Linked DNA regions of Homo sapiens. The protein of the gene in region 1 purifies or fractionates together with the protein of each later gene. This does not show direct contact. Each region holds a gene or a part of one and is shown in the gene's direction. Other genes may lie near its edges. The genes, in order: DUSP28, COPZ1, ETFA, PYGL, QNG1, ECHDC1 and NAA15.

Region 1 (4,300 bases):
CGACCCAGTACAAACCACTCAGAAAAATGTTTCATTAAAAGTTCGGCATACTACATGCATGCACTCTAATATTTTCATGTAGTCTATTATTTCTCTAAAAACTAAAATGCTGATCATGACCCACAGAATTGATTTCACAACCCACATTAGTTGTGAATTACAACTTGCTAAGGAGTCAGAACCAACATGTAGAAACCCTCTGTTCTTAGCAAGCACATTCTGGTTACACTGTGGGGGACTAGCACCAAGTCCAGGAGACAGAGGCTGGCCCAGACTAAGTGTGGCAATGAGATGCAGAGACACTTAGGATGAATTGGTTCCCAATCCATTACCTCAATGGAGTGGGAGCATGATGGTTCAAGTAGCAGGCTTTGGAGCAGAAAACCCACCTCAACCATCCTCCAACCGTAAAGGGTGATGATGATTCATGAAACAGTCCAGGAGGAGGAGGGACTTCAGGTTTTGTTTGATTCATTTCAGTGGCCCAACAGTGGCATCAAGGACCTTGGCTCTCCCATCTCCTCTGCTTTCACCCAAGGCTGGCTTCCCCTTATGGCCATGAGAGAACAGAGGAGCCTTCCAAAGTGCTCTCTCCTTCATGGGTTATTAGACACCAAGCTCATTCCCAGAGCAGTCACGGGAGTGTGGCCTTCACTTTTGGCCAGAGACAGAGCCAACTCCTAGAAAGCGGAGGGAGACAGTGTCCCAACCTAATCAATGGCTCCCATGAACGCCAGGGAAAAAAAGGGAATTCCACTCCTCCATCCTAGGAAAGTTGGAGTCCTTCCTTAGGGTGGAGGAAGTGGGAAACAGATGCTGATAAGACCTCCACGGAGGTGATGTCTGGAGCTGCAACCAGGGAAGACCTGGCTGCAGACATATTTGAGTCTTTAGCTCAAGAGTGAACCCCAGGCTGCAATAAAGATCTGACAGTTACCAATGCTAGAAGGCTGATGGACAAAGCAATGACGATAACCCAGAGAGAGACTGTATGCAACTGAAACTTCAATTGCTAAATGTCTGTAGGGCTGTTGAGACAGTTGCTTTTCAGTGTATCCATTGCCTGAAAATTACCAGATGTCAGAAAAATTGAAGGAGTCTTAAATGGCAATTTCATGGACATTAAGTGATATTAAATTTTTTAAAGTTACAATGCTGACCCCAATAAATTACTTAGAAACAGCAAAAGGAATAGTGTGGTCTATGAAGAAGTGATGAAAATAGAAATTAGTTTTATTTTATGAGCCATGTGTTATAATACATAGAAAAAAATGCACCAATTACAAAGCGGGCCACAAAAAGGAATAAACGTAAAGCCGACAACGCAGTCACTAGGGAAAGGGTGAAGACACGGGAACCACGCAGCCCGCCGTCCACGTGCACCGGGTAGCCACGGGGCCCTAGCCGAACGACGCGGACGCGAAGTGGGCGGGCCCGGCCAAGCCACGCCTCCGCGCCAGACGCCGCAGTAGAGCGGGCAGGGCGCTGCGCCCAAGAGCCACAGACGCAAGCCCAGTGCCACAGGCCGCGGGGGCGGGGAGGACGGCGCCCGGGGACAGAGAACATGGGACGCAGAGCGGTCCAAGGCCCCGGCGCCCTGGTGAGGCCCAAACCTCCCGCCATGCCCCGGCCCCAACGAGACCCAAGCCCCCTGTCCCGGCCCAGCGCCCGCGGGGGACCCAAGCCCCAGCCTGGTCCACCTCGGAGGCCTCTAGGACCCGGGGGCGCCCGGCGGCCCGCCCGGCTCCCACAAATAGACTCCTGGGCGGGCGCCTGAGCCCCCAAAATAGATCCTCAGGGCCCAAAAGCAGACTCTTCGGCGGGCGCCATGGGACCGGCAGAAGCTGGGCGCCGCGGGGCCGCCTCGCCCGTACCTCCACCGTTGGTGCGCGTCGCGCCCTCACTCTTCCTCGGGAGCGCGCGAGCCGCGGGCGCGGAGGAGCAGCTGGCGCGCGCGGGAGTCACGCTGTGCGTCAACGTCTCCCGCCAGCAGCCCGGCCCGCGCGCGCCCGGCGTGGCAGAGCTGCGCGTGCCCGTGTTCGACGACCCGGCTGAGGACCTGCTGGCGCACCTGGAGCCCACGTGCGCCGCCATGGAGGCCGCGGTGCGCGCCGGCGGCGCCTGCCTAGTCTACTGCAAGAACGGCCGCAGCCGCTCGGCCGCCGTCTGCACCGCGTACCTCATGCGGCACCGCGGCCTCAGCCTGGCGAAGGCCTTCCAGGTGGGCGGGCCTTTAGGGGGGCGGTGTTTCGAGAGGGGCGTGTCTTCCGGGGACGAGTTTTCCGGGCGGGGCCGGCTTCGGGATTGGGACAGGCACTTCCGGGAGGGGCGGGTCTCTCTCGTGAGGGCGGGCTTAGGGAAGCAGAGAGGCACTTCCGGGTTGGGCGGGGCCCACTCTTACAGCTGGGCCCGCCTTGGCCCCTGCTGGCCATTAGCGCGACTTGGGGTTATTCAGTACACTTCTTGTTTGCAGATGGTGAAGAGCGCTCGCCCGGTAGCAGAACCGAACCCGGGCTTCTGGTCTCAGCTCCAGAAGTATGAGGAGGCCCTCCAGGCCCAGTCCTGCCTGCAGGGAGAGCCCCCAGCCTTAGGGTTGGGCCCTGAGGCTTGAAGCTTGAAGGCCTGCTGCCTGGAGGAAGGATGTCCCTGCACTGATACAGAAGGCTGGTCTTTACCCTTCTTCCTCACTGTCATATCGAGTTTTCCTTTGTGTGTGTGTGTGTGAAACATAGTGCTTTTAATTTTATATTTCCGGCTGAGGTGATGCACAAATTATCTTACAGACACAAAAAGAAATACATTTGGTAAAACATCGAAGACAAATTAAGAAAAAGCAAATAGGGATCCTCCATTATTTACACTCCAGAATCTTGAGTGTTTGGGGGTGCCGGCGCATTCTACCAGTCTCAGGGAAGGACATGAGTACAGACTACAGTAATCAGAATCTGAGTCATAGGTGAAATCAGGAAAAGCAACTCTTCTTGTGTTTATTTTTAGTAGTGTCATAAGAACGGACTAGTTCTTCCTGCGTGACCACGGATGCTTCTGTTTGAGAAAATGCATACCCACGTGGGACATTTAGATCAAGAAAGCTGTTGATGAAGACATTGTTGAAGGGCAACTTGGGTGATTGGGGAATTATTCTCTTCATCAGCCCCTCTGCAATACAGCTGGAGCTGTCCCATAGGAGTTCGGACAATTACGGACATCCTTTTTCTTTCTCTCTTTCTTTTTTTTTGTTTGTTTGTTTGAGACAGAGTCTCTGTTGCCCAGGCTGGAGTGCAGTGGCGCAATCCCGGCTCACTGCAACCTCCGCCTCCCTGGTTCAAGTGATTCTCCTGCCTCAGCCTCCTGAGTAGCTGGGACTACAGGTGTGTGACACCAGACCCGGCTAATTTTTTGTATTTTTAGTAGAGATGGGGGGTTTCACCATGTTAGCCAGGATGGTCTCAAACTCCTGACCTCGTGATCCACCCACCTCAGCCTCCCAAAGTGCTGGGATTACAGGCGTGAGCCACCGTGCCCAGCCTCCTTTTTCTATTACTAGAGAACTCCAGGACATTAAGAATTTCAAAAGTGATTTTTTCACCCATGGCTTCTACGGTGACAGAGTATGGTGTTCCTGTAGGGAAACAAAGCCAAGTTTTTTTGCTCCTTTCACTAAAGCTGCTTCATCCGGGGAGGAAGCCTGGTAGATTATAATATTTCCAGGGATAACAGTGTGGCACACAGATAACAGGGTAAGAAATTGGTCTATATAGTTTTCTGTGGGATGGCCATTCTCAATGTTCTCCAATAAACTGGGGTAATTAAAATATCAGGGCTCGGATGGAAGGTGTTGCACCATAAATGACACCTGCAGTGGTACTTGTTAAATGTCTTAACATTGCAAGTGAGGGTTCCCATTTTATCAGAAAATAGAAATTTTACCTGCCCAAGTTCTTCACTGAGATTGAATGTGCTGGCCATGGTGTGGACACTATTTACTTTATAATGCACATCTTGATCCCAGTTTATAAACTGGGCCTGAATATATTTCACAATTTCCATAGTGACCAGCAGACTAATGGGGATGAGGTACTGTTATAAGATGATGAACACCAGTATGTCAAACACAATGCTGTGAGCTGGAATCCTCTTTCAGGTACCAAATGTCACCATACTTTTTATTCCATAGCACGGCTCCCACGCAGCTCACTACAGACATGACCAGAGCAGCAGGAACCAAAGGGAGACCCGCCCATTGTCACTTTCTTAATCTCTGATCTCTTGAGGTGATTTGACAGAATTCTGCAGGAAT
Region 2 (3,216 bases), on another chromosome or scaffold:
CCCATCAACTCCCCGCTTTGTCTTCTTAGGCTGCTGTTGCAGCAGTTTATTTCTTCAAATTAACATGCTGTCGTTACCCATCAGGCTTTGCGGGATCCATTAAACCACTCCTGGCTCCCCCTCATCCTTTCCCTAGTGATACTGATATTCAGAAAAGGCCTTTTCTGACTAGGGAATCAGGTCCTCCACCCCCACGTTAAGGGAGTTGAGGATCAGATAACCTGCTGGTTACTCTGAATGGAGTTAAATCTTTTAAGAAGTCCTCCTGCCTTAAAATGGAAGCTGGATGAAATGACCCTTTTTTGTTCATAGTCCCTCTGGCCAAGTAAAATTGTAGCTGTACTAGTCCCTAGAAGGGACTGAGAAGTTCAGTGCATCTGCCCTTTGTTTCAGTTTAAAGGATCACTTTTTTCTTCTCTAATACCAGACTCCAATCAGGTCTTACTCCAGCTTTCTCCCACACTAAATGCTTGTATCTCTGTGCCATAGGGTGAAGATGTCCCCCTTACGGAGCAGACCGTGTCTCAGGTATGACTCTCCCTTCTTCCTTTCCAGATGGACTGGGTCACTAAAGAGGCTAGAACAGCATTCCACCCATACCTCTCAAATCTGAGTGAAACTAGAGACTCAAGACACATCTTCCTTGGCTCCCTCTTATTCCAGAGAACTGGGACTCATACAGCCAGCCACTCCCTACCCCTACTTCCAACTCCTTTCTCAGTTACCTGTGAGCAGTGGCTGTCAGCCTTGCTCTGTACCCTTCAAACCCTCCCTGCCTGCCTGATGCCTCATTCAGTGATTTATTCCCCAGCAGAGGCTTGCCTTAAGCAGATGGTCTGTGTGCATTTGTGCACACACACTCTCTTTCTCTTATTATTCAATTGAGGGCTAAGCTGGAAATGCATATTCTAGAATATGCAGGTTTTGCAGATCCATCTTGCTACCTTGACTGCAGATAGATTGTCTACCTGATGTAGGGGGAAGGGAGGGGTTCCGTTTTCTACCCACTTGGAATTCTCACCAAGAAGTCCATCTGGATTTGTTACCCGCCCCCTGCCCGCCGCCCCTTTTAACATATGTCCAGTAACTCCCTTTTTTTTTTTCTTTTATACCAGGTATACCTCTTCTCTCTTCATCCCCTCAGTGGGTTTGAATTTTTTTGGAATTTTCCAAACAATCTGCTAGGGCCTTAGAGAGCTTCTTCCCATCTCTTTACCCTTGGGGATTTTCTATTCTCCATTCTTCTAAGGACAGGGAAGACAAGTGAGGGGAAGGAGATCCCCAGCCCTCATCCTTACCCTGCCCTGTCAGCAAGCTTTCCTCAATGCTGCTCTTATCTCTGCAGGTGCTGCAGTCAGCCAAAGAACAGATCAAGTGGTCACTCCTTCGGTGAAGACCTCACTGTTCCTGGCTCTTCATCCTCTTCAAAAAATTTGCATGTCTGCTGTGAATTTTCATCTAGTTCCCCAATCGATGCTCTCAGGGTCATCTCGGGGATCACAGGGATCCTTAAATCTCCATTCTGTTTGTGGTTGCCCCCTCAACCTCCCCTACACCCTTCCTATTCTTTTTCATTCTTCTTGCAGTTCTGGGAGTAAAGCTCCCAGCATATTTAGATAATAGGGCAGGGGAAGCACCCTCTTTCTTTCTAGACTGGATTATGCTCACATGCTCCCTTGCCCTGACATTTTTGTAAATTCTGTGCCCTTTGCTGTAGCTACACTTCAGATTAAAGTAGGAGAAAGAATGTGCTGAGTGTTTTCCTCCCTTTGCCTCTACCTGGCCCTCATCCCAACAGCCCAGCAAGGGGAGAGAGAAAGAGAATTCTTTTCTATAGAACGAGTGGGGGCGGGGATGGGTAGGGATTTATCCAATCTAAGCCCTAACCCCACTTAGTGACCTCAGTGTTTTCTTCCATTCCTTCTTACTGCCCTGTCCTCTGCCTTGGAAGAGGCTTTGGGAATAGTTCATAGGGAAGGGACAACATGGAAGAAACAGCGATTTAAATTGTATTGAACAGGGCATATAAAATGCATTCTGTACCCTGATCTGGCATATAGCTTCAAAACTGCAGTGGCGAGTGTCCATCTCTTAGTTAGCTACCTTAACTGTCCACCCTTACTACCTGTGGGATCGTTGCCTGGTTTGTCTTCTCTGTGTCCTGGAGCAAAGCCAGTTCCTAAAACTAAAACTCCATTCTAGTCTTGGGAAGAAAAGTTTCTACTCAGAACTGGGGAAGGAGTGGAACTTATGACTTGGGCCTCTAGGCTGTCTCTGTCCCCTCAGCTCCCCGACATGCATTTACTCTCTGCCGTGGGTCTGCAGTCGCTGCAACCTACCCTCTCTCTGCCTCAGCCTTACACCCAAGCAGTAGGTCTGTGCTCTCCCTGTCTCTAGGTCGCTGAGAGAGGTGCTTTTCTTCATAAAACCTTTGGGGTTTGGATTTCCCCAGGAAGATGGAGAATGGAATACTCACTCTTGGGTCTAATCTTTCCCCTTGACCCAGAACTTCCTCCCCACAAAAATGCCTTTAAAAACCTTCCTGAGACTTAAGCATTCTGCCCCACTTACTAACTGCCAGTTCTCCAGCACTGAGGTGGGGCAGATAACGGGGCATATTTAAGGGGGCATCTTTGTGTAAAAGATGCATGGAGTCAGGAGAAAACCACCTTCATAAACTGCTCTGTGCAAAGAGGAATAAAACATTTTTTCCAAACTGCCTTTGTGTGATGTTTCTGTTTCTCTTCCTCTCTTTTTGGCAGCTACTCCTGTTCCTCCAGCCCCCCGTCATTCCCCATCTTATAATATTTCTTCCCTCCTACCTCAGAGACTCCTAGCAGTGCCCCCCCATCCCTAATTTACGGGGCTGTTTGCCTCCTTGGCATCTCTCCGTCCCCTCGCCTGGAAATTGGCGCCAGGGGTGGGGTGGGGATGGTATTTTCTCAGTGGGAGTCCCAGGGAACTGAGTTCTTCCCCCATCACCCCCAAAGCCAGCTGCCTGCTCCCGCCTCAGCCATTAGTAACCCAGAGACGCGCACCTGCGTGGGGGCTCTTCTCCAGCCCTTGCTCACTTCCTGCACCTCCCACTCCTGCTCTGAAACGGCGCTGAGCGGGTTATTTATCGGAGCCAGCGCTGCTCCAGAAGGTCAGGACGGTGGTGTAAATAACCTCTTCTCGCCATTTCCCCGTCCCTCCAGAGCCTGCTCCCCTCCCCCT
Region 3 (3,500 bases), on another chromosome or scaffold:
TTAGCCAGCTGCAGTGGCTCGTGCCTATAATCCCAGCACTTTGGCAGGCTGAGGTGGGAGGATTACTTGAACTCAGGAGTTTGAGGCTATCCTGGGCAACATAATAAGACCCTATCTCAAAAATAAATAAATAAAATAAATTAGCTAGGCATGTTGGCATATGCCTGTAGTCACAGATACTTGGGAGGCTGAGGTGGGAGGATTGCTTGAGCCAGAAGGTCGAGGCTATGGTGAGTTGTGATCATGCCACAGCACTCCAGCCTGGGCAACAGAGCAAGACCCTGTCTCAAGAAAAAGAAAAGAAATTCATTTCAGTGTCTCTTCAGTTGATTTTTTGCTTAGCACACTGGTCTCTAGTGGGGTCGGAGAAGGCAGTGAACTCTTCGTTTTTTGCCTGATTAAAGTTGTGTATTCCAGTATGAATGGCTAATTCTGAAATTAGACTTTTCATCTTCCATAATGTTTGAGGGAAAATATTTTGTCATGGTTTAGGTTACTGTTAATGTGATAGCTAATCCAGAGTGTCTCAAATCCTCTTAAAATCTTAGCACATTCATACCTGTTCTTTATGACCTATTGTGTTTTCAAGATATTCCTCCTTTAGCATGCACAGTAGCTACATTCTTCCTAAGTTGTTGCAGCTCATAGTTTTGAGTTACTGATTGTATTGTTTTTGGAGAAGGAAGCTTTGTTCATATTCCTTTTAGAGGTGTAGTGTACCTTCTTAGTGTGGATGCCTGTTCGAGTTTCTTCCTTCTAGGTGTGGTAGTACCTGTCCTGCTTTTAAAGACATCCAGGGTTATACAGATATCTGCTGATATGTTTCTTCACCGTTATGGTTCATTTTTTCCTATACTTAATAGAGTTAGAAGACAACTGGTCAATAGTTATTTCTTGCCTTGTCTGTGAAGTAAATTCCAAGCATCAAAGGAGTGCTAGTTTTGTTGCCTTTTGCTGTTGCTTTTAAGAAATAGATTGTATGTTTCAGGAAATGCTCTATGTACAGTGAAGTGTGATGAGAAAGTGAAAGTGTTTTCTGTCCGTGGAACATCCTTTGATGCTGCAGCAACAAGTGGCGGTAGTGCCAGTTCAGAAAAGGGTGAGTGTTCATTTGGAGTTTTTTTGTTTTGTTTCTTACTTTTTTAATTCATAGACTGTATTATAATAAGAGATGACCTCTGCCTACATTTCTAATGAATAGTATTTGAAAGTTCAATTTAAATGATATTCCCAAGCTTATACAAAAATAATAAATATGTATAACTTACATCTTTTTCACATTATCTTTGGTACTAGGATAGTTGCTTTGGTAGATCAAGGGAGTGGGAGACAGAGGATCTATTAAGATTAAGCTTTTTTACTCTTGTCACTGTTTCCTATTATATTTGGGTGATTCAGTATAACAGAAGAATGTAATAGGAAACGTGTGGAGGGTGTCACACTTTAACATATATAGTGTCTTATTTGAACCTCATAGAAAGAAAGTTATTCTATATTCAGACTCAGAGAATTGAATGATTTCTGGAGTCATACAGCTAATGTGGCAAAGGCTGGAATCTAGTCTCCTTAAGTCTTTCCATTATCAGAGAGAATTAATTAGGAGCACTGAAAATTCACAGTAATTAACTTAAATTTCGTGGAATTATATACTTGTGTGTTTCTCTTGAAAATAATTCTTGTTATAGAACTTGAAATCATAGTCATTGTTTTATTATGTATTAATGTATGCAGCATCAAGTACTTCACCAGTGGAAATATCAGAGTGGCTTGACCAGAAATTAACAAAAAGTGATCGACCAGAGCTAACAGGTGCCAAAGTGGTGGTATCTGGTGGTAAGTGAAATATTAATCTTAAAAGATGTAAATTGAAAATACTTTGATTTTTTTTTTTATTTTTAGTATTTATTTTAGAAGTACACAGATCTTTTTCAAATGTAAGAAGTTGGGAAGTTTGGGATATTATTCCCATTTAACCAATTAGGAAAATGAAATTATGAGCATAATACACAGTTTGGGGTTTCTGTTGCACACCTAGTCACTGGCACCAGGGGGAGCATGGTATAAATCTTATCTGCATAACTTTGCCACTTGGTGCCATCTTATTGATGGACTTCCATGAATTCTGCAGAGTATGGTTGGCTTCTCAATTATAGATAGAACTGGCTTGAATTTCAGGGCCATCTTGTGTATAATTCCTACCCTTCTTTCCACTTGGAAAGATTTCCAGAGTTGTCCATGTCTTTGTGTATAACTCTTTAAAAAGTTTCTTAACATTTAATATCAAAACTGTTAATATTGCATAAGACATGCTTATTTTTATACATCATGCTCCTTGTCTTTAAAAACAATGATTTTTTTATGGCCCACTGACTAACTTTTTGAAAAAATAAGGACTGTTATGCTTTTTAAATCCTTGCAATTAAACATCCAACAAAATAAGCTTTCAGACAGCCTTCTATTGCAAGTATCATTGAGAAAAAAAAATTAATATTTTGAAGTGATATATCTGACTTGTTTTTCGTTTTCTTTTTTTCTTTTTGAGATGGAGTTTCGCTCTTGTTGCCTAGGCTGGAGTGCAATGGCACAATCTCTGCTCACCGCCACCTCCACCTCCCAGGTTCAAGCGATTCTCCTGCCTCAGCCTCCCGAGTAGCTGGGATTACAGGCATGTGCCACTACGCCCAGCGCGGTGACTCACACCTGTAATTCCAGCACTTTGGGAAGCCGAGGCGGGTGGATCACCCGAGGTCAAGTGTTCGAGACCAGCCTGGCCAACATAGTGAAACCCCGTCTCTATTAAAAATACAAAAAATTAGCTGGGCATGGTGGTGGATGCCAGTAGTCCCAGCTACTCAGGAGGGTGAGGCAGGAGAATTGCTTGAACCTGGGAGGCAGAGGTTGCAGTGAGCCGAGATCGCACCATTGCATTTCAGCCTGGGCAACAAGAGTGAAACTCCTCCTAAAAAATAAATAAATAAATAAATAAAAATAATAATTTTGTATTTTTAGTAGAGACGGAGGTTCTGCATGTTGGTCAGGCTGGTCTCGAAATCCTGACCTCAGGTGATCCGCCCACTTCAGCCTCCCAAAGTGTTGGGATTACAGGTGTGAGCCACCGAGCTGGGCCCTGACTTGTTTATTCACTTATTTATTCAAGAAATGTATATTGGTTATCTGTTCTATGACAGGCTTATTGCCAAGTGCTGGAGAAACAGATGAAAAGGCAGAATGTTCTTCCTCTCGAGGAGTTTAAAGTCCTTGAGATGACTCCCATTCAAATAATAACTTTATTCAGTCATTCAGAGAAATTTATTGAGCATCTATTATATGTAGAGTTTTGCTAAATATTGCAGATATGGCAGTGACCAAGATAGATATAGATCCTGAAATTAAAGAGTTTTTATTCTAGTGGGAAAAAAACTCATATTAATTACACAATTAGTTAACTAGGTAATCATAGTAGTGTTGAATGCTTTATAGAAGTATAGGAGTGTCAGAGG
Region 4 (3,500 bases), on another chromosome or scaffold:
GAATGACGTGCTCTCCTCCATTATCTCTTCCTGCCTTGGTGAGGCTCTAGCTACCCATTTGTTGCAGCTGACTTCACGTGGTTATTTTGCTTTCCAGAAGTGGTAAAACCGGCAGCCTGAGGCTGAATAAGGATAGCAGACATACTTTGTTGGCCAAGACATTTTTCAGGAATTTAATTTTTAGCGCCTGTGGTCAGGACTTGCACACTCCATTTCTTAGCCCAGTACTCTTCTTTGTTTTATGTGACCTCAATTACACATTTATTTTCTCTGCCTAGCTCCTGAAGGCATTTGAGTATATGATCCCGTCTCATTCTGTGCATTGTGGTCTGCTCAAGCTTCCTAAAGCAACGCATCTTGCCCCTGCTCAATTATCATTGGCTCCTCTTGCCTGCCATAGAACTTAAGCAAGTATTCGAAAGCACTTCTCAGTCCAGGTGGGCCTGTTCTTCCCTTGTTATCTTCCATTACCCTCTGTACCCACCTTGCTCTCCCAACAAACCAATCCCCACTCTGGGCCCCCGATTCACTTGCAGTGTCCTTCCTACCACATTTCTATGCTCAACTCTTGCCTGTCCTGCAAGTCTCAGGTTTATTGACAGGTGTTCCAGAGGTCTTCCCGGAAGTACCCAGGCCCTCTGACTAATGCTGGGGATAAAAATAAAACATACAATTTAAAAATATTTGTTATATCTTCTTTATTTTATTTTACAAGCCTTTTGAAAATATCCACTTTTTACATAAAATACTAGTAATCATAGTACATGCATGTAATTTATAAAGTATATTGGAGATGCTCATATATTTTACTATCAGTCATATGTAACAAATATTTAGAGACCAGTAAGTAAGAGTATGGCCAAGATCTATTTTTTGAAGTCTTATATATTCCCAAATATAAGGAGAGATTACCTCTAAGAAGTTATTTGTGAGAAAACAGGGAATCACCTTACGTTCCTGTCCTTATAAAGTCTGTCATGCAAGGAAGTATTTTCTCATTTACTTTATTCTGAGCAACCACATATCTCTCAAGAGAGACTTTGAAATATTTTTAAGAAGACTTAAGTTCGTGCTAATGTGGAATCATTAAAAAGGAGGCAAATTTAATACAGATGTAGTCATTATTCCTGGGGGTATAACCTCACAATTGCAAGTGTGGAATATATACTATATAAACAAGCTTTTTGTAGATTACTTAAAAGAAAAAGGCAAAACATCATGGTTATAGAGATAATGAAAATACACACATGGAAGGATTTTTTTAAACTGGGTAATACTATGCAAATGGGTATTTGTGGCTTAAGATACTATTACCTGTGACAGCGGTCATCACGTACTAGAGCACCAGCCATTGCCTATGTCTGCCCCAGAGAAGGTACTTTTATCCAATCATTCGAAGGTATCTAATAGCTGGTGAGGGTTCTAGTAACAGCATTATAGACATTCAAACAACTTGGATGAAAACGAAGATGATGTGTTCTGGAAAGCAGTGTTAGGTGGCCCGTTAGGTCATGGATGTTGACCATTTGTTGTGAAATTTAGAACTCAATTGTTCATAAAAGGAAAATGGGAAAGAATGAAATTTCCAAGTTGACGTTTTCAAATAATATTTTGTTTTAAATATTTATGTGTAACTAGTATGTTAAATATGATAATACGCCTTTATTATACTGAATTCTACTCACAATTTTTTTTGATTGGCCAAATTATTATTTTTTCTTTTTTTACTTCTTATCTTATGGAAATGGGGCAATCCCTAAAATTTGAGGTAACTATATTGGTGCATTTACAGATTTTTGCCATTTTGTTTTGTGTCTAGTAGAGAAGAGAGGATAGATGATTGGAGAATAAGATATTGTAAAAGGGGGCAATGAAGTTACTCACTGGTGCTTTTTTTTTTTAATTAGTAAACTGTGCTGTATATAAAGAAGGTTTTCAGCAGGTCTGAACTTTGTACCTCTCACCTTCAACTCTGATGATATTTGCCTGACTTTTACCATGTCAAAGGCAAATAATGTCTAAGTCAATAGAGAAATTTCCAATTTCAATAAGAACAAACACCAATAAACCTTAGGTAGTCTTCTTGTTCATAAGGAACTTGCCAGTAAATAGACTTTATAGAAAAATTTGATTCTAAAATTAATTGTAGGCCGGGCGCTTGGCTCACGCCTGTAATCCCAGCACTTTGGGAGGCCAAGGCAGGCAGATCACCTGAGGTTAGGAGTTCAAGACCAGGCTGGCCAACATGGCAAAACCTTGTTTCTACTAAAAATACAAAAATTAGCTGGGCATGGTGGCAGGCGCCTGTAGTCTCAGCTACTCAGGAGGCTGAAGGAGAATTGCTTGAACTAGGAGACAGAGGTTGCAGTGAGCTGAGATTGCGCCACTGCACTCCAGCCTGGCCGACAGAGGGAGACTGTGTCTCAATCAATCCATCAATAAATAAATAAATTAATTAATTAATTAAACTGTAAAATTTCTTACAGTAATCAGCCAAGGAGGAATATTTTCTACCCATGCGGTGTGTGGGAGTTAATCTTTGTGTTTCTTGGATGACTTGAGATAGTCATAGCCAACTCAGCTTACCGGCACCCACCAAGGTGCCCTATAAATATTTTATTAATGAATGGTGAGCTATGGCCGTCTGACTTCTGTTTGTCCAAAACCTATGCTTTATTCATGAGGTTCATGATCAGGAGAGGGAAAAAACACAAAACATTGAATCTACTTAGATGAGTTTGCTTTTTTTCTCCCCGGGGGTAAAAAATACTGAATTACTTCGCCAAAAATAGTGCTTTGCCAAAACCTGTTGTCAGTAACACTTTTATTTAGTCCTTCATACATCTCTATAGGAGTGTTAGCAGAAAGGAGTCACCATCCCAGACTCCAAGAGAGGGTTCTTGGATCTCGCACAAGAATTTGAGGCAAATTCATAGAGTAAAGTGAAAGCAAGTTTATTAAGAAAGTAAAGGGGCCGGGCGCAGTGGCTCGCGCCTCTAATCTCAGCACTTTGGGAGGCCGAGGTGGGCGGATCACCTGAGGTCAGGAGTTCGAGACCAGCCTGACCAACATGGAGTAAACCCCATCTCTACTAAAAATAGAAAAATTAGCTGGGCATGGTGGCGCATGCCTGTAGTCCCAGCTCCTCAGGAGGCTGAGGCAGGACAATCTCTTGAACCCAGGAGGTAGAGGTTGCAGTGAGCTGATATTGGACCATTGCACTTCAGCCTGGTGACAGAGCAAGACTTTGTCTTTAAAATAAAAAAAGAAAAGATTTTGAAATATTTTTAAATATCTTAAGTCCATGCTAATTTGGAATCATTAAAAAGGAGGCAAAGAAAACCTTTTATCAGCAAGGTTTCTGTGACCTGTATCTTGTGCAGACCTCCTATTTCATCCTGTGACTTAGAATGCCAAACGTTCTGAGAATGCAGCCCAGTAGGTCTCAGCCTTATTTTACCCAGCTCCTATTCAAGATGGAGTCACTTTGGTTCAAACAC
Region 5 (3,500 bases), on another chromosome or scaffold:
GACAGGGTTTCGCCGTGTTTTGTAGAGATGGAGTTTCATCGTTTTCCAGGCTGGTCTTGAACTTCTGGCTTCAAACAATCCTCTGGCTTTGGCCTCCCAAATTGATGGGATTACAAGTGTAAGCCACCACACTTAGCTAGAATTTTTTAGTTAAATTATAACCCACTAATGCTTGGTTAAATTTGTCTTTTCTATGTATAAATATAATTGGCTATTTTATTTTCATATTTGGACTTACATATCAACTTTGAGCATTTCCAAAATTGGTAAATATGATCATTTTCTAGCTGTTGATCAATTAATGTCTTCATAAAATAAGTTAATCATATTATCTGAAAGGAAACAGTTAAAAATGAATGTTGTGGTTCTCTTCAGACCTGAGCTTATGGATGATTATTCTTTGTATGTTGCTGTATTTTTTTTTAATTATTATTATTTTTGACAGAGCCTTGCTCTGTTGCCCAGGCTGGAGTGCAGTGGTGCGATCTCGGCTCACTGCAACCTCTGCCACTCAAGTTCAAGCAATTCTTCTACCTCAGCCTCCTGAGTAGCTGAGACTACAGGCGATCGCCACCACACCCAGCTAATTTTTGTATTTTTAGTACAGACGGGGTATTACCATATGGGCCAGGCTGGTCTCGAACTCCTGACCTCGTGATCCTCCTGTCTCAGTCTCCCAAAGTGCTGGGATTACAGGCGTGAGCCACCATGCCTGGCCTATACTTGGCTGTATATTATACAATTAATGTGAATTATATTGCAATCAGAAAAACAGACGTGTTTTAATTTAAGAAACTTTCAAAAGGAATGCTATCTACACATTTAAAATAATAAGCCCTTGGGCCAGGCACGGTGGCTTACACCTGTAATCTCGGCACTTTGGGAGGCCGAAGCGGGCAGATCACAAGGTCAGGAGATCGAGACCATCCCGGCTAACACAGTGAAACCCCGTCTCTTCTAAAAAAATTCAAAAAATTAGCCGGGCGTGGTGACGGCGCCCGTAGTCCCAGCTACTCGGGAGGCTGAGGCAGGAGAATGGCGTGAACCCAGGAGGCGGAGCTTGCAGTGAGCCGAGATTGCACCACTGCACTCCAGCCTGGGCGACAGAGCAAGACTCCGTCTCAAAAAATAATAATAATAATAAGCCCTAGGATTATATTGCAGAAATCTGTATATGAAGTAATGCCATTGAAAAAGAATAGTAAGTAGTATCAAGATTACATAAATTGTATTTTATGTGCCTTGAAAAATGGGAAGCGAGTTTGGAGTGATAGAAAATTTAATGTTCATTAAATCCTTTTGTTTCTTGTAAAAGATCTATGAATTTTTTTTTTTTTTTTTTGAGACAGGGTCTCCCTCTGTAACCCAGGCTGGAGTGCAGTGGTGTGATCACAGTTCACTGCAGGCTTGACCTCCCAGGCTCATGCGATTCTCCCACCTCACCTCCTGAGTATCTGGGACCATAGATGTGTGCCACCACGCCCAGCTAATTTTTTTTTTTTGTAGAGTTGGAGTTATGCCATGTTTCACAGGCTGGTCTTGAACTCCTGGGCTCAAGCAATCTGCCCACCTCAGCCTCCCAAAGTGCTGGGATTACAGGCGGGAGCCATGGTGCCCGGCCAATCTATAAATTCTTACCAACAAAGTAAGATTATTCTGCCTTTTAAAAAATGTTTCAACTGCACCTTTAAAAAATAGCATATATAAAGCTTTCAGATACTCAAATAACGTTTATATTCTCTTCATTCATCAGGGGAAAAGAGTTTCTTTTTACAAACGAGCCCAAATCCTTGTAGCAGATACGTGGAGTGTATTGGAAGGAAAAGGAGATGGCTGCTTCAAGGACATCTCCAGTATCACCATGTTTGCTGATTATAGATTACCTCAGGTTCTTGCTCATCTTGGAGCCCTGAAATACTCTGATGACCTACTGAAGAAGCTTCTCAAAGGTTTGCAACTTTAAGTCATTCTTTGTTATACTATGAATTGTTGGATCTCGGTTTAGTTTCTTTTACAAAAGGTCTCCTTTGCTTTAAAAAAAAAGTACTATTTATTGTTCATAGTATATGTAAAAAGGAAAATGCAAAGACAAAATGTAGAGAAAATGATTTTTCTTTTTGTTTACACTGTGAAATGTGGATATTGTAGAAAATTGTGCTATTTGAACATTATAATTTCATAGCCTAATGAAACCTAAATTTATGTTACATGAAAGTATGTAACACTGATAGTTCATCAGTTATAGTATTTGAAGAGTGTTAAGCTGAAGAGCACACTACATGGTTATATGAAGGTAGGTTGAAAGATAGGTAATATGAATTGGCTTTTGAGTGAAGAGACTCCAAGGTCTGCACTGGGATATCTTGCACAAGTCACTCACTTCCTTAGGCTTATTCGCCATTATTGGATATGATTATTGATATCAAGACTAGGAGCCTTATGATATATAAGCTTAGGTAAATTGGGTTGAAAAGTTTGTGTGAAAATTAGCTTATAACATTTCCTTGTATGAGGAAAATAATTATATGATTTTCATGTTAATTTCTCTTTTAGGTGCAAAATTTTCTGCTACTTTTTTCTTTATTTTATTTTATTTAAAAAATATGTTGCCCAGGTTGGTCTTGAATTCCTGGGCTTAAGCAGTCTTCTCACTTCAGCCTTCCAAAGTGCTGGGATTACAGGCGTGAGCCACTGCACCTGGCCTCTTTATGTTTGTTTGTTTGAGACGGAGTCTCACTCTGTTGCCCAGGCTAGAGTGCAGTGGTGCGATATTGGCTCACTGCAAGCTCCGCCTCCCAGGTTCAGGCCATTCTCCTGCCTCAGCCTCCCGAGTAGCTGGGACTACAGGCGCCCGCCACCACACCTAGCTAATTTTTTGTATTTTTAGCAGAAACGGGGTTTCACCGTGTTAGCCAGGATGGTCTCGATCTCCTGACCTTGTGATCCACCCACCTCGGCCTCCCAAAGTGCTGGGATTACAGGTGTGAGCCACCACCCCGGCCTTATGTATTTTTTTAAAAGAAGTAGATTCTATGATTGAATAATTTCCTCTTGTGAAATAGATTTGAATCCCCCAGATCAGAATAACACAGAATATAAAGGTACCATTATTCCTATGGTTGGCTCTACTGGGTTTTTATGCTGCCATGGGCAATCTGTTTTGTCTTCCATTTCCTCATTTGAAAAAGAACATGCTATTTTTTGTCATCATGCCCATGTCAAGGGTCACTAATTGTTGGATACCTTTAAAAGGGACAACATTTAGCAATCAGGGCTTATTTTTCATATGGCCATATTAAGCTGCTTTTTTTTTGTTTTGTACACACTGTTCATTCCTGTCTCTGAGTATTCTCTTACGTGGTTTCCATCGTCCAGTGTTCTTTCTTTTTTTTTTTTTTTTTTTTTTTTTTTGAGACGCTCTGTTGCCCAAGCTGGAGTGTGGTGGCGTGATCTCGGCTCACCAGAACCTCCGCCTCCCAGGTTCAAGCCATTCTCCTGCC
Region 6 (4,167 bases), on another chromosome or scaffold:
GGTGTTGGAGCCTGGTGCCTGAAACTATGGGGACCAACATGGGGAATGGAGTGGGCATAGATCTAGGCGCCATGGAGATTAGCCTAGCATTGGGGTGATCTTGGAGTCTCAGTGAAATGGCTCAGTGATCTTGGAGTCTCATTTTATAACAAACTAGAATTAAATACAGTACTTCTAATAATGACTTCTTCCAATTAGTCCAAACTGGGCTCCCACTTATTCCCTATCATACACATCTCCGTATCGTAAAACTATCCTCCCTGTTCGGCGCGTTGGCACATTCTGTTCCTCCGACTAGAATATTCCCTGTACTTATTCAAATCATACCTATGACCACTGCAGAACTCCAGGAACATGACCATCCCATCTAAACCCCTGCGTTCAGAGACTTGACCAAACTCTAGCAAGCTTTAGCAGCATAAGGCCCTGTGCCCAGGGCGACTGCCTCAGAAAGCTTAACTACGTGATGTAACCAGCACACAACTGATGATAGGTCTCTGACATCCCTTTCTTAGAACGTTTACTAAAGGGCTTGCAATTGTAAAGACTTATTTCTTGCCACTCAGAAGTTCTCTCTCAAGGACCAGAGAGTCATTCCTTTGAAATGTAATCGAGAAGGATAAAATCCTCCGTAGGAGGATAGAATCCTGCGGTAACTGTTAAAACGCGCGCACACACAAACACACAGCTGGCCTAATCACATTTACACTAACAACTCTGTAGGTTCACTTTCTCTACTGAGCGCCCGCATATCCCCTTTCTCCTTTTAAAACGTCCCTTTAAAAATGCCCAGATGATCTCTGCACGAATCGAAATAGAGCTCAGCTCTTTCCTGTCAGTAGTTAACTGAATGTTTTCACCGCTTTAACGTCCAGCTGCGCTTATCTTTGACATCGACTACCTAAGGTCTACCTTTAGTCCCACGACTCTGACAAAATGATCTCAATATTGGTGTAAAATCACCTCCCCTTTCAAGGGTCTTCCAAAGCACTTCCTGTCTGCGGCATACAAAATGTATTGGCACGGAATTTTAAGCTTACTGAGCTTTATAAACACGTCACATTCACACATTCAAGACACACACTGGATATTCGGATAAAAACAAACAAACAAAAAACTGGCTAAATACCCATTCCCCTCAATAACTTGGATAAGATACCTAAAAAAGGTCGACCTTCGGTACCTTTCTGTCTTCTCCCCTCTCGCTATTTGCCTACACTGGCTTCCTCACCTCCACTTTTTCTCACGTTTATCTGAGCGAAAACAAGCACGGTTCGGCAGCCTCCTTTCCCAGCCCTACCTTTGTGCTGCAAAAGCGAAAATTCAAAAGCCAAGTACAATAGGAGACCGCCCACCCTGGCTCCCTCGTGACACGAGGGAGCGCGAAGCGGAGGGCGCCTCGCGGCAGGAGCGGGATTTCCGGGGTCACGGGAACCGGCAGGGGAACGGGATAAAGTTCCCGGAGAAAGGAAAGGAGAGCGTGGGATAGTAAAAGAGAAGACGCGGAGAAGAGGAGAGGACCTACAAGAACGGAGGACAGGGGCGCACGATGGTCCCGGGGGGAGCGGAAACAAAGGCACGCAAAACGGAAAAGCGTGTGTAGGGGAGCGGAAAAGGAAGTCACCACCGTGGCCTGCGACGGTAAGTGGTCGTAAGGGTTGGTCTTAGCGCTTCAGTTTAGTGTTGTCAGTGGGAGAATCCTAAAATGTCGCCGTGGAATGGACTGTACCGCTCGCTTCTCCAAACGTGTCCCAGACGGCGAGCCTCCCCGGCTCCGCGGCTTGTCCCTTGCAAGCGCCGCGCAGGCCTGCCCCGCGCTGGACGTGGAGACGCGGTGCCGAGCGCCACGGGCCGGCTGTGCGCCGGCCGGGGAAAGAGGGCGAGGGGAAGAGATGAATCGGTCTTCCCAGAGCGCGCCGCGAGGTCGCGAGATTACACTTTAAAAAGCATGAGGAGGCTTGCTTTCTACATGCTGATTTAATTTCGGAATACATTCGAGGCCCTGTGCTAAGTTAGGTAATGTTCCCTATAATTGTCTTTTATGTATAAGTTGTCTTGCCTAACTAAAACTTTTCTTACTTGTATCGTGCAGCCAACTTTTCAAGAACGAAAGATGAGCAACTCCTTTCTGGTAGAGGTTCTTTCATTGGAGAATTTTTGAGCTACAATAATCCTTTTAACGCTGCGCACACATACAGGGATTACACGTGTAGGGGATTAAAAACACAGTTAAGTTTAGGTTGAAGGTGCTGTTAAGGACTTCAGGCAACATTAAATCAACACTCAGTTCTTTGCTCTGTTCCACATCTGGGCTCCTGTATAGCAGTTGTTGCTCTAGGTGCTAGAGGTATGCAGAGGAACTGGACAAGGGCAAGGAAAACAAAGGGCTCCTTCTTTAGAAGAGCTAGCATTCTCTTGGAACAGACAAGCTTGTGGTGAGAAGTATATTTGTGAAATCTACGAGGGGAGGGAGCAGCGCAGTAATAGAACGGGCGATCCTTTCTTGATTTTTTATTGGGTTCTGGCCTGAAAGGCGACTGTATAATCAGCTGGGATTCCTGCAATGATTAACATTCCAGGAAGGGAAGCCAGCCTGTGAAGAAGCATGGCATTGAAACAGGGTGAGTTGTGAGGATTATAAACAGGGTAGTTGGAGAGTTGATTTGTGGCCAGATTCTTAAGCCCCTGTTTAGTCTTAAGAATATTATCTTTAGGCACTGCAAATGCCCTCTTGCAGCTAAGACTAATGGGAAGAACTGGTTAAAAAACTAATTACAGCAAAGAGTGAGTGAGAGTGGTGATGAGAGATACAGATGTTCTGAGAGCAGACAATAAGGGGACTTTATGTAGTCCTATGTTAGAGGAGATGATTTGAAGTTACTCTGAGGAAGACAAAAATGTAACAGGTAGATCGCATATGCGAAAGCTTGAGATGGCGAAAAAATCAAAAGGATTTCAGGAACTGAAAGTTGTGCATTTTGGCTGTGTGAGGGAGAGAGTTGTGGGTGGCATGTAATGAACCTTGAAAGGTAGTTTATGTTATGACAGCCTACAACCGAATCAGAACTTTTACAAACAGGCGATATACAGACAGTCTGAAATCAAATGCTTCTGATTTCTATTACGTGCTCTAGGCTAATTGTTTTCTTTTTAAGTATGAGTTTGCGTTAGTCTTCTGGATTTAGTGATTACAGTATAAGGTGAAACAGGTAAAGGCTTTTAGAGAACATCTCACTTATTTCCTGTGCACTAAAGGGAAACAGATCACCTTTGCAGAACTTGAAAAAAATGGGAAGTGCGACCTTTGATCTCAGATGGACTTTCTTTCCTCTTTTCAGTGGCTTGGTAGTGAGCTTGTTCAGCTCCACTGAATCTTCTTTGTGGTGGGGCTGCAAGACATCCTGCATGGCAAGTTTTAAACATAAGTTTTACCCCGAAGAAAGCTTATAAAATTGTAAATGCTTCAGAACCTTTTCATCTTCCTGTGATTCTGGAAGAAATCCAAAAAAAACCAATCGTTTAACTACATACTTCTACAGAACCTGAATCTTAAGCTTTGTTCACTTTATACTATTAGATACTATAGTAGGTTAATAATGACTAACACCTTGTCATCTCATCACTGAGCTTTTGTCTAAGATAGTCTCTGAATTTAGAACTGGGACGAAAGTGTACATAATAGGCTATTATAAAATTTTTAGAATTGGATTTCTAAACTTGGGGTCAGTGAATCTAGCAGGCTTAAGCAGTGTTCTCAGGTTTTTCTGGCACAGACAAGGAATATAAGAGGAGGAGAGAAAAGGAGAGACAGTAGTGGGAGGGAATAGAATGAGAGAAGATAGAAAATATGGAATTAATAGAGAAAGGATACATGAAGTATTACAAGATTTTCTTGGAAAAATTGGCATTTCAGTGATGGATCAAAGATGTCTAATGAGGCAAAATACTACTATTACTTAAATATTTAATGTTTTAAAGATTTGAGGATAAAAGGATATAGATCTGATGGCGTTCATACTAATTGCTGTAGTGTTGATGTTGGAGAGAGGGGTAATGTATCAAGACAGAGCAGACAGACCCTTTACAATGAGAGCAGAAGATATGTTGTTTACTGATTCTACTTTCCCACAAAATGCTAATGCTTTTATAAGTCCCTCCTCCTTATTT
Region 7 (3,500 bases), on another chromosome or scaffold:
TTTGAGTCCCTTATGTAAAGTGGTGTAGTATTTGCATATAACCTATGCGAATGTATACTTTAAATATCTCTAGATTACTTATAATACCTAATGCAATATTACTGTTATATAGTTATACTGTATTTTAAAAATTTGTATTTTTTATTGTATTTTTAAAAATAGTTTTTACCTATGGATGCAGACACCAAGGATAATGAGAGCTGACTGTATTTACTTCTATGCAGCGTTATCCCATGTATAGATTGCACCACTACAATTAGGCTACAGAACAAGTTCCTTCAGTCCAAAGTACCCCCCTCTGTTGCCCTTTTAGAACCACATCCATTATCTCTCCCACCGCCCTCCCATCCCCTCTCGCTGCAGGCTCCAGCAACCGGTACATGTCCTCTATTTGTATAATTTTGCCATTCTTTTGGGTTTAGAGATAGAGTCTTCCTCTGTTGCCCAGGCTGGAGTGTAGTGGCTATTTATAGGCTCTATCAAAAGGGCACTGTAACCTCAAACTACTGGACTCAAGCAGTCCTCCCGCTTCAGCCTCCGGAGTAGGGGGGATCACTACAGGGCTACTACATCCAGCTAATAGTTTATTCCTTTTTATTGCCAAGTAGTATTCCATGATATGGATGTACCACAGTGTGTTTAACCATCCATATAATAGCAATTTTTGATTAAACATCTTAATTTTTTTGTGGTAGTGTTAGTGGGGCAAAAACCTGTAAGTTTATTGCCAAAATCACAGTGCTGAAGATCTATTGATAAGTTATATGTGAGAGAAATGTGGAAGTCACTAAATGAAGGAAGAGTAAAGGAGCTAAAATGTCCTTATTGTTCTCATACATTAGGAATGAAGAAAGTGTTACTGACCAAAAGGATAGTATTGATTTTTTGAAATTGCTTCTGTTTCTTGAGATTTGATAGTAAGTTAGTGCTTTTAAGATTTTTTTTTTTTTTGCCCGGTCTGATAAAGGAAATGTTGGACATAATGTGATGTGTGTGCTCTATGTAATCAAGTGTTGCTAGGTTGGTAACTTGTTGTTTTTTTTTTTTTTTGAGACGGAGTTTCGCTTTTGTTGCCCAGGCTGGAGGGCAATGGCATGATCTCGGCTCACCGAAACCTCTGTCTCCCGGGTTCAAGCAGTTCTGCTTCAGCGTCCTGAGTAGCTGGGATTACAGGCGTGTGCCACCACACCTAGCTAATTTTGTATTGTTAGTAGAGATGGGGTTTCTCCATGTTGTTCAGGCTCGTCTCAAACTCCCAGCCTCAAGTGATCCACCCGCCTTGGCCTCCCAGAATGCTGGGATTACAGGCCTGAGCCACTGCTCCTGGCTGCTTGGTAACTTGTTAAATCATTCCTGCAGCATTCAACTTTTGAGCTGCTACTTTGTTAGTTGTACTGTACTTGTTATGATAAACTTAAGTAGGAAATACAGTTAGTTTGTATTTCAAAATAAACATTTTTTTCCTTAAATTTTTAATGGAAACCTGCTTTACACATAAGTTTGCAAAAATTTTAGAGTTTCTGCAGTGGATTTGCCTGGCTTGATCTAGTCTAGTTGATCTCTAAAATTCAGTTTTGTTGTATATTTTTCTCTTTTTTCCAATATTACTCTTCTGTTTTCTGACTAAAGCATTGTCCTAAGTTAGTCAAAATGCTTGCATAATGTTTCTTGCTGATAATTTGTCTAGAAAAAGGATGGGATGAATTTAATGTGACATATACTATGTAAGAGTTTATTTTATTTTGTTTGTTTTTTGAGACAGTTTTGCTCTGTCACCCAGGCTGGAGTGCAGTGGTGTGATCTTGGCTCACTGCAACCTCCACCTCCTGGGTTCATGCCTCAGCCTCCCAAGTAGCTGGGATTACAGGCGCCTGCCACCACACTCGGCTAATTTTTTTTTTTGTATTTTTAGTAGAGATGGTGTTTCACCATGTTGGCCAGGCTGGTCTTGAACTAGTGACCTCAAGTGTTCTGCCTGCCTCGGCCTCCCAAAGTGCTGGGATTACAGGCATGAGCCACTGCACCTGGTCCTATGTAAGAGTTTAAGGAAGACTTGTGTTTGCCAGAAGCTGGTTTTTTTTTTTTTGGTCTGGTTTTTTTTTTGTTTTGTTTTGTTTTGTTTTGTTTGTAATTACAAACTTTTAACTTATTTGGAAAATTAAGTCATTAGAAAATTGTGGCCTTTGCCTACTGTTGATGCTATTTGTTTATCTAAAAGTTTGAGGAGGTTACCAGATATTTATACCACTTTGTTAGGATCTAGGTTAAGGGTAGGAAAAATGAGGTTGCCAGAGTAGAACAAAATCCACACCTTAGATTTTAACCTGCTTGGAAAAGATGGACATATCCTAATGCCTTTCAATCAAGTATTGGTAGGTTGGTTGCTGTTGCTGCTGCTTCCTTCTCTCTTTTTTGCTCTTCAAATGTTAATGTCAGTTATAAGAAAAATCTAAGTTGGGAATAGTTAAAATATTGTACATCAATAAATGTAGTTTTGGACTTTAGCCTGAATGATTTAAATTGTTAGTTGTAAGTGTTAAAGGACAGAATTTTTCTTTCCTAGAAAAGTGGTGAGAGAAGTTAAAATAGCATGATGATTATGTTTGTGATTTGTCACTATTTGCCAGGTAAAATGAGAAATCTACCATTTGCCAGGCTCTGCTCTAGGTGCTTTAGAATAGCACTGCACAGTAGAATTTTCTGTGATGATGGAAATATTTGTTATCTGCTCTAATATGATAGCCATTGGCCATGTGTAGGTTTGTTTTTTGTTGTTTTTGTTAAGACAGGGTCTAACTCTATCACACAGTCTGGAGTGCAGTGGTTTGATCACGGCTCACTGCAGCCTCCACCTCCCGGGCTCAAGCTATCCTCCTAGCTCAGTCTCCCGAGTAGCTGCGACTACAGGCGTGCCACCACGCCTGGCTAATTTTTGTATTTTTGGTAGAGACGGGGTTTCGCCATGTTGGCCAGGCTAGTCTTGAACTCCTGGGATCAAGCAGTCCTCCTGCCTTGGCTTCCCAAAGTGCTGGGATTACAGATGTGAGCTACTGTGCCTGGCCTGGCCACATGTAATTATTGCACACTTGAAATATGGCTAGTGCAACTGAGGAAATGAATTTTTAATTAATCTTAATTTAAATTCAAATAGTCACATGTGGTGAATGGTTACCGTTTTGGACACAGCATGCTTTATTTAGAGTCCTTTCTTAATTCTCAAAACTTTTCAAGGTGGGGACATTTTTATTAAGCAAACAGACTGAGATTAAGGTCAACAGCTAGTGTTAGTTACAGTCTGGAATAAAACTTTTTTTCTTTTCAGGGCACTTAACATCACACCTGCCTAGTGTTTAACTATTTAGGGGAGGGGTGTAGGAGGAGGGTGAGGGAATTGTTAGGCAAAGGAGTAGTAATACTTATTAGGTGGCTGTATACATTGTATAATAAGTAAATTATTATTATTATTATTATTTTTTTGAGACGGAGTCTCACTGTTGCCC

What was found.
Region 2: the proteins of DUSP28 (region 1) and COPZ1 purify together in Homo sapiens (affinity purification with mass spectrometry, with the first as the bait; one large-scale study listed by BioGRID). This does not show direct contact.
Region 3: the proteins of DUSP28 (region 1) and ETFA purify together in Homo sapiens (affinity purification with mass spectrometry, with the first as the bait; one large-scale study listed by BioGRID). This does not show direct contact.
Region 4: the proteins of DUSP28 (region 1) and PYGL purify together in Homo sapiens (affinity purification with mass spectrometry, with the first as the bait; one large-scale study listed by BioGRID). This does not show direct contact.
Region 5: the proteins of DUSP28 (region 1) and QNG1 purify together in Homo sapiens (affinity purification with mass spectrometry, with the first as the bait; one large-scale study listed by BioGRID). This does not show direct contact.
Region 6: the proteins of DUSP28 (region 1) and ECHDC1 purify together in Homo sapiens (affinity purification with mass spectrometry, with the first as the bait; one large-scale study listed by BioGRID). This does not show direct contact.
Region 7: the proteins of DUSP28 (region 1) and NAA15 purify together in Homo sapiens (affinity purification with mass spectrometry, with the first as the bait; one large-scale study listed by BioGRID). This does not show direct contact.

The regions. Positions count from the first base shown.
Region 1 is NC_000002.12:240,558,857-240,563,156, forward strand, and holds the start of DUSP28 (dual specificity phosphatase 28), read left to right. Parts: upstream 1-1,500; 5' UTR 1,501-1,828; coding exon 1,829-2,221; intron 2,222-2,473; coding exon 2,474-2,611; 3' UTR 2,612-4,300. Other genes in the region: ANKMY1 (ankyrin repeat and MYND domain-containing protein 1), read right to left, coding at 1,875-2,094. UniProt on the Homo sapiens protein: Has phosphatase activity with the synthetic substrate 6,8-difluoro-4-methylumbelliferyl phosphate (in vitro).
Region 2 is NC_000012.12:54,349,131-54,352,346, forward strand, and holds the end of COPZ1 (coatomer subunit zeta-1), read left to right. Parts: intron 1-489; coding exon 490-528; intron 529-1,345; coding exon 1,346-1,393; 3' UTR 1,394-2,716; downstream 2,717-3,216. UniProt on the Homo sapiens protein: The coatomer is a cytosolic protein complex that binds to dilysine motifs and reversibly associates with Golgi non-clathrin-coated vesicles, which further mediate biosynthetic protein transport from the ER, via the Golgi up to the trans Golgi network.
Region 3 is NC_000015.10:76,283,970-76,287,469, reverse strand, and holds part of ETFA (electron transfer flavoprotein subunit alpha, mitochondrial), read left to right. Parts: intron 1-988; coding exon 989-1,099; intron 1,100-1,731; coding exon 1,732-1,833; intron 1,834-3,500. UniProt on the Homo sapiens protein: Heterodimeric electron transfer flavoprotein that accepts electrons from several mitochondrial dehydrogenases, including acyl-CoA dehydrogenases, glutaryl-CoA and sarcosine dehydrogenase.
Region 4 is NC_000014.9:50,937,984-50,941,483, reverse strand, and holds part of PYGL (glycogen phosphorylase, liver form), read left to right. Parts: intron 1-278; exon of another isoform or gene 279-683; intron 684-3,500. UniProt on the Homo sapiens protein: Allosteric enzyme that catalyzes the rate-limiting step in glycogen catabolism, the phosphorolytic cleavage of glycogen to produce glucose-1-phosphate, and plays a central role in maintaining cellular and organismal glucose homeostasis.
Region 5 is NC_000009.12:83,943,243-83,946,742, reverse strand, and holds part of QNG1 (queuosine 5'-phosphate N-glycosylase/hydrolase), read left to right. Parts: intron 1-1,753; coding exon 1,754-1,949; intron 1,950-3,500.
Region 6 is NC_000006.12:127,340,810-127,344,976, reverse strand, and holds the start of ECHDC1 (ethylmalonyl-CoA decarboxylase), read left to right. Parts: upstream 1-1,367; 5' UTR 1,368-1,641; intron 1,642-2,569; exon of another isoform or gene 2,570-2,605; coding exon of another isoform or gene 2,606-2,621; intron 2,622-3,317; exon of another isoform or gene 3,318-3,490; intron 3,491-4,167. UniProt on the Homo sapiens protein: Decarboxylates ethylmalonyl-CoA, a potentially toxic metabolite, to form butyryl-CoA, suggesting it might be involved in metabolite proofreading. Acts preferentially on (S)-ethylmalonyl-CoA but also has some activity on the (R)-isomer.
Region 7 is NC_000004.12:139,304,505-139,308,004, forward strand, and holds part of NAA15 (N-alpha-acetyltransferase 15, NatA auxiliary subunit), read left to right. Parts: intron 1-3,500. UniProt on the Homo sapiens protein: Auxillary subunit of N-terminal acetyltransferase complexes which display alpha (N-terminal) acetyltransferase (NAT) activity. The NAT activity may be important for vascular, hematopoietic and neuronal growth and development.